Regions from separate parts of the Homo sapiens genome. Here region 2 is linked to region 1. The links come from fine-mapping of genetic effects on gene expression. Tissue or cell type: monocytes. Region 1 holds a variant in brackets; the other region holds the start of a gene. All regions are shown on one strand. Distances are between the middles of the regions.

Region 1 (8,110 bases):
CCAAGATCGTGCCATTGCGCTCCAGCCTGGGTGACAGAGCGAGACTGTCTCAAAAAAATAATAATAATTAATAAATATGAAAGAGAAATAAACGGAGCTCTGAATGGGCTCTAATTTGATGTTTCTATCTATGCCTTGATTCATTTCTACTGTTTTTTTAGCCCCCTCCTGCCTTGCTTTTGTTTTACAGTCTAAGCACAGAGGGTACACTTGGAGAAGCATTTGGATGAAATCTGGTAAGAAACCAGTTGAAGTATATCGAGCAGCCCAACCCCAGGACACCCATATAAATCTAGAATGTAACCTTTGGAAAACGCTGACCTTGTAAATTAACCAGAAACATCAAAGAAGGAGATTATACTGTGTACATTCAGAATGCAAAAGAAAGAGCCATCTTTACTTGTGAAACAATGACCTTTGTTCTGCATCTGTGTTATGATGAATTCTCAAGTCTGATGAGGTGAGACTCCGTAGTTCTCAGTAGTTGGGTCCTAATGAGCTGGATTTTCCATATTGTCTAATCCACTTTGTCTATAGCTAGGTGCTTAGGGAGGCCACTCGAAGTCTATTAGATTGGAATGCTAAAAAACAGGTCCCCTGTGACCTAAGAGAGATAATATATCTCACTCATTAGGGGTACAACTAGGTTCCTGGCTTACTGGAAAAAAAAAGATTCTTATTATTTATATATTTTTATTTAATTTTTAAACTGAACTTTAGGTGTCTTTATTAACACTGAAAAGAATATCCTTATAAATAAAATGACAGCTCTGTAAAAAAAAAATCAGTTGGCATTGAAACTGGTGGATTATACTCATTCTTTACCTACAGACATATTACTAATGTTTTTATCTCATTGTAGATGACTTACAGGCATGTTACTAATGTTTTTAATCTCATTATAAACCACTTGTTGGCAAGAGTTAGACATACATTTTTATAGATGCTAAAAATGTAGCATTGGGCACAGTGGCTTACGCCTGTAATCCAAGTATTTTGGGAAGTCGAGGCTGGAGGATCACTTGAGGCCAGCAGTTACAGACCAGCCTGGGCAACATAGCAAGACCCTGTCTCTACTTAAAAAAATTAAAAGGTTTAGCTGGGTATGGTGGTATGTGTGTGTAGTCCTAGGTACTTGGGAGACTGGGGCTGGAGGATTGAGCCCACGAGTTAGAGGCTACAGTGAGCTATGATTGTGCCACTGTACTCCAGCCTAGGTGAGATCCTTTCTCTTAAAAAAATACACACACACACACACACACACACACAAACACACGCAATTCATTATATGATCTAGTGGTAAAAAGGCTTAAAAATTGGAAACATAAACACATGTAATTCATTATATGATCTAGTGGTAAAAAAGGTTTAAAAACTGGAACTATAAAGAGCAGAAAATGAGTCTCCTCTTTGCCCTAGATCACTTCTTGTTTCAATTTTCAGTGTTCCTGAGCTTTCCTTTCCAGTTTTCCCTCTGTTCCTGAATAGTAACCATTGTTAGCTGTTTCATGTGAATCTTTCCCAAACTCTATCTACACACACACACACACTGCATCTGGATCATGATGCATATATATATATGATTGTGATTGTCAGTTTTATGTGTCAACTTGGCTAAGGTACAGTTTCCACTAATTCAATCAACACTAACCTGGGTGTGTTGCTGTAAAGGCATTTTTGTAGATGTGATTAAAATCCATATTCTGTTGATTTTGAGTAAGGGAGATGATCCTAGATAATCTGGATGGGCCTGATTCAGTCATTTGAAAGTTCTTAAGAGCAGACTTGAGTCTTCCCTGAAGAAAAAGGAATTCTGCCTATGGATAGCAGCATCAGTTCGTGCCTGACAGTTCCAGACTTCTCTCCCTGATGGCCTGCTCTGTGGTTCTCAGACTGCCTAGCCAGTCTGACAGTTGGATACACATATTCCTTGCAATAAATCTCTTAACATGTATTTCCTACTGATTTTGTTTCTTTAGTTGAACCATGACTGATATATATAAATATTTCTACGGCTTGTTTTTTCACTAACAATGTGTCTTAGAGATGGCTTGAACCATGTCTGGCATATTATATTTCTGTAGCTTGCTTTTTCACTAACAATGTATTTCAGAGATGGCATATTTAACTGCTGCATAGTGTCACAAAAAATGTCCCACAATAAGGATATAGCATAGCTTATCTAATCATTCTGTTACGGTGGATATGTGAGTTGTTCACATTCAAATTTAAATTAGATTTAAATTTATTTTCACTTGCTACTTTGAAAATTGGCTCAAATGTCTTTTTGCATCCAGCATTGTAATGATAAAATCTAATATCAATCTGATTCTTCCTCTTTTGCAGGTAATTATTTTCCTTCTTTGAAGGCTTTGAAGATATTGTTCTTACCCTTTAATATTTCACAAGAACTTATCTATGGTTGTTTTCATCTGGATCAATTTTCAGTAGTCTTTACAGAAGGAGCAGGGTTGAAAAAAATAAAAACATTTCAGTAGTCCCTTTCAATCTGAAGACTCATGTCTTTTGATATTCTTGGAAATATTCTTCTATCATTACTTTTATTATTATTTTTTCAATACTTTCTGTTCTGTCCTGGAACTCTAGTTAGATGGTTGCAAGACCTTCTGGAATTCTCCCTCAAGCCTTAGTTTTTATTTTGTGTTTACCACCCATTCATTCCATTGCACTGCATTTAGGGCAAGGTAATCAGTTTGATCTTTCAGCTTTGTGAACATGCTCTTCAGTCATGTCCATTCTATCACTCAGCCCTGGTACTGAGTTTCATTTTAATAGTGAGTGGTATTTTTATATTTCTAAGATCTCAAATTGTTTTCATAGTTGTATTTTTATAGTTACGATATCCTCCTGAGGATATTAATTTTACTTTTATTAAAGGCTCATTTTGTTTGCTCTAGTAACCTTTTTCCCTAGGGAGTTACTTCTGTTGATTAAGTTGAGTATGTATCTTTTATGAGATTGGTTTTCCTCATCTGTGTGGTAATTGTTGGCTTAGGTCTTGTATTTGTGTGAGGTCTGTCTCCAAGGATGTGGAGGAGGAACCAGATGTGTTACTGGATGAGGAATGCCAGGTCCGCATCCTTAGGGGGTGCTCCTTGGACTGCTTCGACAATGCCATTCACAAAGGCCCTGCCCTGCCTCTCCACCTTAAAAACCCACACTTTTCTCCAACCTGAAGCAGATGCCTCAGCTACCTGCTACTGACAAAATGGGGAGGTCTGTGGGGCAGGGGGAAGGGAATCAATCCATCTAGCTAGTCATTATAGATAACAATTTTGTCCCAGGGCTCCTCTTTTCAATTTTAATTTTTTTCCCAATTAAAAAATGGTAAAATACACATAACATAAAATTTACAATCTTAATCATTTCTAAATGTACTGTCCAGTGGCATAAGGTTGCGCAACCATCACC[C/A]CCATCCATCTCCAGACCACTCATCTTGCAAAACGGAAACTCTGTATCTCTTAAGCCACTCCTTATTCCTTCCTGTCCCCAGCCCCCATCTAACCATCATTCTTCTGTCTATCTCTATGATTTTGACTACTCTAAATAAATACCTCAGACAAGTGGAATCATACAGTATTTGTCTTTCTGTGATTGGCTTATTTCAGTTAGCATGATATCCTCAAGTTTCATCCGTGTGTTAGCCTATGTGAGAATTTTCTTCCTATAATGGCTGAATGATATTCTATTGTGTGTATATACCACATTTTGCATATCCCTCAAACACTGACAGACACTTGAGTTGCTTCCATGTTTTAGCTGTTGTGACTAACGCTGTTATAAACATGGGCGTACAAAACTCATGGCTCTCAAGCCCCTGTTTCCCATCCTTGACTTGAGGATTTGGTCAGGGGAGAGCGGCGCAGATTCTTTGGTGCCTATTTTGCTGGTACTGTAAAAGGGAGAGCTACATGACATAAACCCTATTTTTTCTTAAAATTTTCATTGTGTGGTATTTGCATGTACAATAAAAATTGGAGGGTGTGTAAACTTTAATAGAACTAAAAGAATCTCAGGACAAAATGGCTGCTTAGTTACATCCTGATAATTTAGCCTAGGACAAGAACACAGGAAGTTTGTTTGTGTCATTTGTACCAATAAATCAAGCCCTTTACATTCGGTCATTTCAGGAGTAGCATTGTGCACTGTCAGGGGGCACAGGCTCCATAGTCAGGCACCTGTGTTCACATCCTGGGTCGACAGTGCCTTAGGTGTGTAACTTTGGACAAGTTAAATGGGGTAGTAGAGTACCTGCCTCTGAGGAGCTTAGGTAGTGCTGGTACTTTGTAAGAAGTCAATAAATTATAAGTGTTGTTTTCTAAACAGCAAAATAACTATGTTAGTATTTATAATGTTTAGAACAATTGTTTTAGTTATAGGAAGGCTTTCTGATCTTTACTTTTATGCCAGACCAGTGAAACTGACTCATCTAGAAATAGTTTCTGAGGTTTTTGTGCTTTGCCCTGGCTGAGCTCTCTCCTTCCAGCACAATCCCTGGGAAGGTTGGGATGGGGTAGGGACAGATAGCTTATGCTATGGCAGCCTCCTAGAATGTGGACAATCTGCAGTGCTTTCCGAGCTTGAAGATTCAAGTTGTGACACATTCTGCATTTTCTTTCAGCAGTGTGTAGTCTGAATTTGAGGTCTTTACATATATTTCTCCGTTTTGACTCTTTAGTACACAAGTCTACCAAAGGAACAAAATATCTTGCCACGGCACCACTACAGCTAATAAAAGAAAGAGACTTCAGAACTTTAAATTTAATTTCAAAAATTAGATATCTAGAAATAGTCTATTAGGCAAGGCAGTAGTTTTATTTTTTTCCCCAATGACAGTACACTGCACACAAATACATTTAAATAATTACAATTTTTAAAACTTTCCAGAGTGAAGCTCTGAAAGTGACAACATTCAGGCACTAACTTTGATAATGGGCAATTTAAACAACATATGGGAACATTTAGAAAAATCTGTAAGTCAATGATCAAAATTAATTCATTAGACATTTAGATTTCTGTCATGTACTTGCATAAGTGTTGCCTTATTCTGTGGGGCCAGTGGTTCTTTTGGTGACACACCATGTCGCAGCTGGAAAACATTACTATTTTCTGTACTTGTCAAAAATGTTTTGTAATCATTACCCTAATTATATATATGTGTGTGTGCATGTGTGTGTGCGTGTGTGTGTGTATATATATATAGTACTGAATCACGGTAAATAAAACATTCATAATAAAGTGAATTATTGGTGTGAAATGAACTGCATTTTAAAACAAAAATAAATATGAGTTGGATCTTGAGCTGAGTAGCAATTTTAAATTAAAAGCCATACAGAAATAAATGACAGCAATTTGATTTTGCTTTCTTGAATCGTCACACAACAGTTTTATATATTTTTAGTATCTAAAAAGCATAAGCTATATCTTAGACTTCACAGTTCACTTCTAAGAGCTGGTAATAATTTGTCATCAACACAAACTAATTAACCAATAAAAGTATTCTGAAGTGTTTAGTCTAATTATATTGTTGCAGCTAAGTCAGTTGTAAGACCTCCATTTTTGGCAGTTGTGTTTAGTATGAAAATAATCTTTGTCATACTTTCAGGACTTTAAAAATTTTGTGAATAACTGTTGACATTTTTTAATATTAGAGCTAAAGAATTTTACAGATAGTAGGGAGCTAGGCAGTTATCTGGGCTACCTCTTTTATTTTACATAAAACTTTGGAGGTTACAGAGAAGAGCTTAAATGGTTTATTCCTGGTGATTGGGATCTGTTATTCCTACTTCACTTCTCTATATTTTTCCCTCTTTATTTTTAGCAAAGAAAGTTCTGCAACACTGATGGCTTTATTTTTGTCTATTTTTATGCCATAGCTAATAGAGTATGCGTCTTGGTTTGCTAAATGTACTTTCTTTTGGCTATTCAGTAGAAATACTTGTCTCGAGTCTATAACTTGTTGATGGAAAGAAACTTCAAACTCTGTAAAGTATTTTAAAGAGGTTTATTCTAAGGCAATATGAGTGGCCATAGCCCAGGGAACGGTCTTGAGAACTTCTGAGAAAGAGTGCCCTAGGCAATTGGGTTACAATTTGGTTTTATACATTTTAGGGAGATGGGAATTGCAGGTAAAATACTAAATTAATACATGGAGGGTAAACATTTGCTCAGCCCAAAGAGGTGGGATATCTTGAAGCGGGCAGTGAGATGAGGGGTGGGGTGGGGAGGATTACAGGTCATAGGTGGATTCAGAGATTTTTCTGGTTGGCAATTGGTTGAGAAAGAGTTAAGCTTTGTCTAAAGACTTGAAGTCAGTAGGAAAAAAATGCTTGAGTTAAGATAAGGGGGCTTATGGAAACCAAAGTTCTTGTTAAGTAGATAAAGTCTCACAGGTAGCAGGCTTCAGAGAGAATAGATAGTAAATGTCTCTTTTTGTATCTTTAAAGGTATCAGATGCTTGGTTAATCTCTCCTAGATCCAGGAAAGGCCTGCAAAGGGAAGGCCTGTCTGCATTAATGGAGATTCTCTACAGATGCAAATTTCCCCCACAAAGACAGCTTTGTGGGGCAATTTCATAATATGTCAAATAAATATATTTTGGGTTAAAATATTTTGATTTCTCTCTGGGTCTGCTATGTGTCACGCAATCCTACACCAGAGTCAGGTTGGAATTTGGTAGCTTATTGCCACAAAGAGTCTGTTTTTTCAGTCTTGTGATCTCTATTTTAATTTTATTTAAATTTATTTTAAGTACTTTAATTTTATTATTTTTATTAATAAAAGTTATTACTTTTATTTTATTAAATTAATTTATTTTAAAATTTATTGTAATGTTGGTCAGTTGTGTCTAAACTCCAAAAGGGAGGGGGTATAATGAGGTGTGTCCAACCTCCTTTAATGTCATTAATTCAGTTTTTCAGATTTCTCTGGGGTCCCCTTGGCCAAGAGGGAATCCATTTAGTCAGTTGGTGGGGGCTTAGGAATTTATTTTGTTTACAAACCTATTAAACTTTCAGTGGCCTTCAGAGAAATAGTCCTTATCCTGATGGCTGTCTTCTTATGTTTACGGTACCACCAGCTGATTAATTTACTTAAAATAATTAGAACTCTCTTGGGTATAGTGAAGGAAAATCTTTTTTTTAATAAAATCACTTTAAAAAGTAATTCTGGGAGGCCGAGGCTGGTGGATCACGAGGTCAGGAGATCGAGACCATCCTGGCTAACACAGTGAAACCTGGTCTTTACTAAAAAATACAAAAAATTAGCTGAGCATGGTGGCGGGCGCCTGTAGTCCCAGCTACTTGGGAGGCTGAGGCAGGAGAATGGCATGAAGCCGGGAGGCGGAGCTTGCAGTGAGCCGAGATCACACCTCTGCACTCCAGCCTGAGTGACAGAGGGAGACTCTGTCTCAAAAAAAAAAAAAAAATAATAATAATAATAATTCTATTAGTCCGTTCTCACACTGCTGTAAAGAACTGCCTAAGACTGGGTGATTTATAAAGGAAAGCATTTTAGTTGACTCACAGTTCCGCATTGCTGGGGAGGCCTCAGGAAACTTACAATCATGGGAGAAGGCAAAGGAGAAGCAGGCACCACCTTTGCAGGGTGGCAGGACTGAGTGAGTGCAAGCAGGGGAAATGCTAGAAGATTATAAAACCGTCAGATCTCGTGAGACTCACTCATTATCAGGAGAACCATCCCCATGATCCAATTACCTCCACCTGGTCCTGCCCTTGATACGTGGGGATTATGGAGATAACAATTCAAGATGAGATTTGGGTGGGGACACAGAGCCAAACCATATCAGTAATTTATTAAATATATACTATGGACTCTTATAAAACAATGTAGCTTCTGGAAGATGTGGGGGATAGCTGGGCCTCAAGGACACCTGGAACCAAGCCTTGTTTGCCCACAAGATTCTTATGGTTTATCTGTTTGTTTGTTTGTTTGTTTTTCTGCCTGTCTTGGCTTCCTTCTTTTTGAAAACAGGTGAATTTTTCTCCAAAAGTCTGCTAGGAGACCGGAGTTTGAATCGTTAAGCGTTTCACAAGTCCAGTTGTAAAATTCTAGGAAAAGGACACTGATT
Region 2 (8,110 bases), 47 kb after region 1:
AACATGGGATGGGCCTTCTCCATCACATCTCCAAGTGGTTTCGCCATTTCAATTTCTTCCTACATACTGGGCTTGCTCATTGCTCATCCCAAACTTCAGGTATTAAGAATATTGCCATAGACATTCCTTTATGAGGTGATCATATATTTGGATATGGTAAAAATAATTAATACTAGAAGATGGATCCACAGGGAAAAGGGCAGTCAGTTATGTCTGAAACCTAAGAAAGGATTTGGCTGTGTTTTCCAGGGATGTAAGGATAATAGTATATAGAAGAGAACACCTAGGCCAAATTGTTGGTTAGAACACCTAGGCCATCTCCTTGGTTCATTTTTTTAGTGTCTTGCTATCTGTCCTGAATCTTGGAACCACTGCTCTAAAAGAGGTCTGAAAAATTTTGCCTTCAAGGCTCACCTTTACATAAAATTCACTATGGCTGAAACGAAACTCATATTCCTTCTTGTTTCTGTCTTGGGTTTTCTCTCAGATTGGTAGTGCCGAGGCTTGAAACATTAGAGAAATGTTCGATGTTTTTCTTTCCCTTTTCTTTCCCCTCTTCTTCACTAAGCATGGGACAGTTATTCATTGTGTCTTTTAAGTACATCTCTTTATTGCCAGCCCCCATGTGGGGATGTCTTGGCAGTTGTGTATGTTGGCCTGAACCTCAGGAGAAAAATCTCAGCCAGAGATGTAAATTCGGGAGGCCGAGGCAGGGGGATTGCTTGAGCCCAGCAGTTTGAGACCAGCAACATAGCAAGACCCCATCTCTAAAAAAATGTTTTAAAAATTAGTTAGGCGTGGTGATGCATGCCTGCAGTTCCAGCTACTCAAAGGCTGAGGTAGGAGGATTACTTCTTGAGCTCAGAAGTTAGAGACCACCCTGGGCAGCATAGCAATATCCCATCTCTTAAAAAAAAAGAAAAGAAAAGAAAAGAAAAAGAAAGAGAGGAAATGGCCAAGAGATGGAGGAAATCCAAGAGAAAATGATATTGCCAAAGTACGTCAACAGTATTACAGGTTGCAAGAGATAGCCCTGGATTTATTGATGAAGTTTTTGTTTTTGTATTTATCTTGGTGTGAATAGCACAGTGCAATGGTTCTCACACTTTTTGGTTGTACAAATTATAGTATACTCTTAAAAATCATTGAGGACCTGAAAGAGCTTTTGATTGTAAGAACCCCAAAGAGATTACATCTCTTATTTATCCTACTAGAAATTAAAACTGAGAAAATTTCAAACATGTTAATTTACTTAAAAACAATAATAAACCTATTACCAGTTAATAGAAATGTTTATGAAAATAACTACTTTAAAACAGAACAAAATTGAGAACAGTGGCAATGTTTTACATTTTAGGAAATCCCTTTAATATCTGGCTTAATATCATAGAAAACCAGTAAGTTCACATATCTTGTTCTGCCTTCAATCTGTTTTGCTATTACATGTTATTAATATATAGCCTCTGGAAAACTCCATTATATTATCATCAGAGAATGTGCATGAAAAAATAACATATTAACTATGAAAATAGTTTGATCTTGCAACCCCCCTGAAAGGTTTTCAGGGATTTCTAGGGATCTCGGGACCCCAGGGCAGGAGAGCTTGACAATACTGTGAACCTCATAAATAAGATCTTTTTGTCATAATGAAAAGTAAGCTAGATAGACTTGACTGAAGTTTCAAGGGCTATCTGATGAGAAGTGGAGGTTGTTTCATTGACATTATTCTCTAAGGTTAGGAATGGACTCTACAACATTCATTCAATTAATTCATTCAGCATACATTTATTTAGCACATATTATGTGCCATGAAGTACTCTAGATACTGAAGACATACCAGTAGACAAAACAAAATATCCTTGCCTTCATGAGACTTCTAATAAAGTAGTAAAATATATAGTGTATCAGAGAGTGGTTAAATCCTATGCAGAAAAACAATGTAAAGAGGTCTAGAGAATGCTGGAGGGATTTGCATATTTCAGTAGAATGGACAGGGAAGGCCTCTTTAAGAATGCAACATTTGAGCGAAGACCTGAAGGAGGAGAAGCCATTGGGATATCTTTTGAAAGGGCTTTTCCAGCTATTTAACAAATTAATTTCTTAACATTTGAAATTTTATTTATATGTAGTCTTTAATCAAATATCCATTGTATATGACATTAGCTGCAGGTATAAGGAAATAAGACAAGAGAACTGAGGTTTATTGAGTGCCTGCCATGTACCAGGCACTGTGCTAAGTATTATGAATGAGGTTTGGTACCTTCACTAAGATTTACAACTTAATGCAGGAGGCAAGGTGTAGACATACACTTCCTGCAGTATGGGTGTAGCAGTTCTTATGAGGAAGGAGAGTTGACTTGAAGTTGCACCGCCAGAAGTAATGCACCTGACCTACCTGAAGTCTACGCCTCCCTTTCAAGATGAATTAGGGTGCAGAGGGTGCTCTCCACTATAACAGAGGGGAAGCCAGCAAGATAATACCTGATCACACCTTTTATAGAGCACTTTGGTTAACAACATGTCTTCACAAATTAACTCACTTAACCTTCATAACAATAAGAAGCAGATGTTCTAAGAAGTGTTACTGTGTCTCTCAGAGATGGAGAAAGGCTAAGAAAGCTGGGTAGTATGACAAGGCAGTTATAAGGTAGAGCTGGACCTAAATTTAAGATAATCTGCTTCAAGCACAGTGCTTTTCCCACCGCAGTGCAGCTGTTATGAGCAGCTGCCGAAATAAAACAGCTTGATATTCTCCTGACTGAGTCCTCCCACTGACTCAAAAGGAGGGTTAGGTTGAGGCTGGGGCGGAGCTAGACCTCAAGAAGAAGCCAACAAAGTCACACACAGCGCTCCCCACCTGCGCTTGCGCAGGGGAGGAACACGCAGTCCGGAAAAACGCCGGGGATTCTGGGTCGCGCAGCCGTGGAGCTACCTCAAGGCGGAACTGGGGAGTCCAGGGCTTCGGCAGCCTGAACACCCGGTGTGAAAGGAAGGTGGCAGACGTGGAGCGGCGCGCATGCGCAGCAGCTCACTCTGCTGAAGGGCTGAGAGGCGCACCCGGGCGGCCAGCTGGGCTCGGAGCGGAACGGGGTCAGGATGGACGAGGACGTGCTAACCACCCTGAAGATCCTCATCATCGGCGAGAGTGGGGTGGGCAAGTCCAGGTGAGGCGGAGGTGCGGGTCGTGACGAGGGTGGCTGGGCTCTTTCTGCCCCGGTGGCTGCTGTCTCCTGGGCCGCGACGGGAACTGTAAACTGCAGCGGCGGGCTCGGGCCGGCTCCGCTCGCGCCCTCCTCGGCCTCTGGGCCGCGCTCTCCCGCGACGTTTGCTTTCCTCTCCCCACCCGCGCCTGCCTGGTTCCCGGCCTTTGCCAGGCCCAAGTTCTCTGGGTCGCTCTCCCTCCTGTAGCGCCGAGAAAACACCATTCCGAGGGCCGCCGCTCGGCCGGCAGGTTTGCTGCGCGGAGCTCAGGGCGTGGCGGGCTGGTTTGGGCCCGAATCCGGCCGGGGGCGCCTTGCCTCGAACCTCTCGGGGTTCAGGCTGCCTGCCACCCCGAGACCCGGGAGACATAGCTTTCCCACTTGAGGGTTTCTGTGGGGCCTTCTCTAAATACATAATGTCCTCGGGAAGTTTCGTGACGCCTTAGGTCCCATTCCTGGCCTGTTTGGGCGCAGCTTAATGTCGATTCTTTTACTTTTTTATTAGTCGGCTGTGAAAGAACTGGATCTTGTGACTGCTGGAAAATTTCGCTTTAGTGTAAGGTCCGAGTGCTTCAGCCGTGGGCCACCTTTGAAAATAAAATGTAATTGTTATTTCTCATTTTGCCACATCCTGTGGAGACAGAAGATTAGTGTTGTGCTTTCATTTTTTACTTTTTCCTTGGGGAAAATAATATTGACAGTGGAGTTGAGTATAAGGTAAGACATGGATCTAGGTGGATGTTGCTAGAGGGCTGTGATTTCATCCAGGTCTTGGAAGAGAGTTCTCCAGCTGATGTCATTCTTGCCATCTGATTATGAGTAGGTTATGTTCAAGGCCGTCCTGATCCTTAAACCACATTTGCACTCCAGGGGCTGTAATCAGTTTCATATTTTAGCTATACCTTCTGATACACGTATCTTTCAAATAATTTTTTGTATTTCATAAATTGAAATAGCCTTAATTCTACAAACTAGAATGAAAGCTCTCCTCAAATAACTTGTAAAAGTCACTTCATAAAGTCTTACTTTTTAAAAGCTTCTTCAGAATTTGAAAGCTTATGTAATATATTCTGATATTATTTACTTATTTATTTATTTATTTTTTGAGACGGAGTCTCGCTCTGTTGCCAGGCTGGAGTGCAGTGGCGCGATCTCGGGTCACTGCAACCTCCGCCTCCCGGGTTCAAGCGATTCTCCTGCTTCAGCCTCCCGAGTAGCTGGGACTACAGGCGCGCACTATCATGCCCAGCTAACTTTTGTACTGTTAGTAGAGATGGGGTTTCACCATGTTGGCCAGGATGGTCTCCATCTTTTGACCTCGTGACCCGCCCACCTCGGCCTCCCAAAGTGCTAGGATTACAGGCGTGAGCCACCAGTTTGACAACACATTTTCATAGTGTTCCTCATGTAATGTCCTCTGTGTCTACTGGAATGAAGGATTTGCACATACCAAGGAATAGAATAATGAAATACTATGAGTTAGCAAACCAGCATGATTTGTCTGTGTGTGTGTAAAAGGCATGAGTAAAATTATTTACATGATCATCTATTATTGCACATACATATTTGAGTGTTAAAAAGTTAAACGTTGTCTTAATAGGAATTTCACAGCCTTGTGATCTTTCTTTTTCTTTTCTCCTTTTTTCCTTGAGATATCGTTCTCATTTAAGTTCAGGCATATGAAATTAGTGTTTTTGAAGTCAAGAATGGTTGGTTGTCATTTCATGTAGTTCAACCCAATACATGGTTGGTTAGCACTTTTTCTAAATGTATTGCATGGATGACAAGTTAGGGTATGTTAAAATTTTCTGGAAGGTTAACTGGAGTATATAAACAAAATTCCTCTGCTCTACCCGCTGTTTTTTTGAGACAGGGTCTTATTCTGTCACCCAGACTGGAGTGCAGTGGCATGATCATAGCTCACTGCAGTCTCAATCTCCTGGGCTCAAGTGATCCTCCCACCTCAGCCTTTTGAGTAGCTGGACTATAGGCACGAGTCACCATGTCTGACTAGTGTTTTTTTATTTTTTATAGAGAGGAGGACTCACTGTGTTGCCCAGGCTGTCTCGAACTCCTGAGCTCAACAGATCCTCCTGCCTTGACCTCCCAAAGTGCTAGGAACATAAGCATGAGCCACCACAACCGGCCCTACTTCTAAAATTTTTTTCATAGATGGGATTTTCCTATGTTGCCCAGGTGGTCTCCAACACACAGGCTCAAGCCAAACTCCTGCCTCATACTCCTAAAGTGCTGGGATTACAGACACAAGGCATGACACCCAACCGAGGTTCTCCTTGTAGAGTAAGGCCTGTTAAGTGGATTTATCAGTCTCCCTAGTTCATGCCACCGAAACAAAGAAACAAATTTACCGTGGGCCTAATCTGTTTTAAACTTTTTCCTCAATACGTAGCAATGGATTATCAACTGCTCGATGCAGGATTTTGTCACTTTATTTCTTTTGTGAAAGGATTACATATAGTGAGAAAGTTGTCTTATTTGTCTAGCTAGATATACATTATTGGCCTGTGTGATATGCTGTGGAAAACAATCTTAAACACTCTGGATAAGATGAGAATAAATGACTCCACTGAAATAGAAGTCTATGCCTTTTAAAGTGAATTAGTACAAAAACATTTGCTGTGGATATGATCTTAAAGGATTGTTTTAACCAAGTTTGTTTCTATTTCATTACAGAGCTGGAGCTAGTGGAAGTGAGATAGCACTTGTGCTGTTGGGGAAAACAAAGGATATGTTTAATCCGAATTAGTGGATTACTTTCTAGTGATTTCATAGTGTTAGAGTCTAAAGGGTATGTGATAGTAGTCAGGAGATCAGGATTATGAAACTGGGGCTGCCACTTGTGTGACCTTGTGTGTGATACTTGAATGCTGTAGGCCTTCATTTCAAAAGCGAGGGGGTTGGAATAGAAACCTCTCAGACCCTAAATGTGTAAGACTCCAATTCTGTGGCTAGGCCTGGTAAGGTAAAGAGTAGCAGAATATATCAAGAACTGGAAGGGATTAGAGAGACCTATTATCTAAATTGCTGTCCCTCCTTTGCCCCTTGCCTTCCCTTTTTTTTTTTTTTTTGGTGAATTTCATATGTAAATTTAAAAAATGCAGATTAGTTATAATCACACTCTGTTTATTATAAATTTGGTCACATCTAAGTGCCATGGTGGTAGTTACTCCTTCCATCTCTACTTCTGCATGGGAAACATTTTGCTCCTTTAACTTTGAAAATATGAGGGTGTAAATATACAATACTATAAGAATGGTGCTTCTGCCAGGTGCAGTGGCTCATCCTGTAATCCTAGCTACTCGGGAGGCTGAGACAGGAGGATCTCTTGAGGCCAGGAGTCCGAGACCAGCTTGGGCAACATAACGAGACCATGCCTCTAAAAAAATAAAAATAAAAAAATTAGCCGGCCATGGTGATGCACACCTGTCATGCCAGTTACTTGGGGGGCTAAGGTGGGAGGATTAGTGAGCTGTGATTCTGCCACTGCATTCCAGCCTGGGTGACAGAGTGAGACCCTCTCTCTTAAAAAAAAAAAAAAAAAAGTGTGCTTCTTAATTATTTTGAGATTGTCAGTTCTTTTCAAAATCTAATAGAGAAATGGACTCTCTGTCCCTTTCAAAGTCTAATAGAGAAATGGACTCTCTGCCTAGAAAAATGCACACATAGAATTTAGAATACTTTTTGGGCTACCAGGGTACCCCTGTCTAAGATCTGATGTATACCCAGAGCCTGTATTAAAATTTGTTGCTTCACACCATGCCACCAATTCCCTGCCTCTCCTTACAAAGTACTGTTAATAACAAAGGCCATTTAAGGATTAGCAATTATGAGAGAAAAACCTCTGGCTTTGTGTCTGCACATTGCCATATGTTCAATAAATAATACCCAATATCATCATTATTGTATTATTATTATGATATTATTACAACTAGTCTACAAGGTAATCTTATGTTTTTGTAGTAATATTTTCTGTGGTGACCACGTGTAGATATTATGTATCTTTTCTTAAATTATGGGTAACTGAGTATGTTGGGAGAGAAGAAAAATTTTATAGGTAGTCTTTAAGAGTCTTACTAGTATTGTTACCTATGTTCCAAGTAACTAAATATAGTCAAGATGTTAAGTAGATAAATCTAGAATTTGACTCTTCTTTTTTACTTTGATTTTATGATGCTGGTTTTATGGTAAACACAAGAAAACAAAACCAAGTAAGGGAGAGTTAATCGTTCAAATATATTTAATGACACTGGGTTTGGAAACTACCAGGAGGCCATTATGTTTTGCAGAAACTCTATGGACAAAACATACCTCTACCAGCAATAATCACAACCTATAGAAAGAGTCATAAGATTTTTCTATAATTTAGATATCTGATGGCTGTTTCTTTGATTTTATTCATGCAAACAGGTCAATTAGGAGAGTCTTATACTTCAGAAGTTAACATGAGGGAAGATTGAATGACTTTAAAATCAAGGGCTTTAACAAAAGCTTAGATTTTATTTTTGAAGAGTTTCTAATAACTGACACTTCTGCTTCATAGTAAGTAAAATAATTCTGGAAGATGTAAAATCTTAGAGTACCCTTCTAATCTGGTGTCTTTTGCTTTTATCCTTTCTTTCTAGTTTCTTACCATTTCCTAGGTTTAGTCCTTTGTTCTCTCTTGCCATAACCATGGCGGTTGTCTTCCATTGATTTTCTTCCATTTTTTGTTAGTATTAACTTTTCAAAACAAAGAGCAGTACTTGTCTTAACTTTCTTTAAAAGCCTCCAGTAGCCTCCAGTTGCCTACTTGGTTTTACACACTCTACCTAGTGTTTGCCCGAGTCTATCTACTCTGTCCTGTGATCTTTCTTTTAACCTCTCTTTTTACTGTATCTTCTCTTAGGTAG

What was found. PIP is the estimated chance that this variant, and not a neighbour inherited with it, causes the effect.
Region 2: it holds the start of RAB18, and the variant in region 1 is fine-mapped to the expression of RAB18 in monocytes (TOPMed, PIP 0.98).

The regions. Positions count from the first base shown.
Region 1 is chr10:27,454,713-27,462,822 of GRCh38, forward strand. No RefSeq gene overlaps it. Among named protein-coding and RNA genes, the nearest start is that of PTCHD3, 44 kb to the left of the region's middle. The variant C/A (reference allele first, on the strand shown) is at 3,433.
Region 2 is chr10:27,501,274-27,509,383 of GRCh38, forward strand. RAB18 (RAB18, member RAS oncogene family) reads left to right here and starts at 3,031. Exons shown (of 7, transcript NM_021252.5): 1 at 3,031-3,164. The coding sequence starts at 3,097. It overlaps LOC124902399 (a long non-coding RNA gene), which reads left to right and starts at 3,172. Exons shown (of 2, transcript XR_007062097.1): 1 at 3,172-3,451; 2 at 3,706-3,819. RefSeq lists enhancers at 2,727-2,996, 3,107-3,166.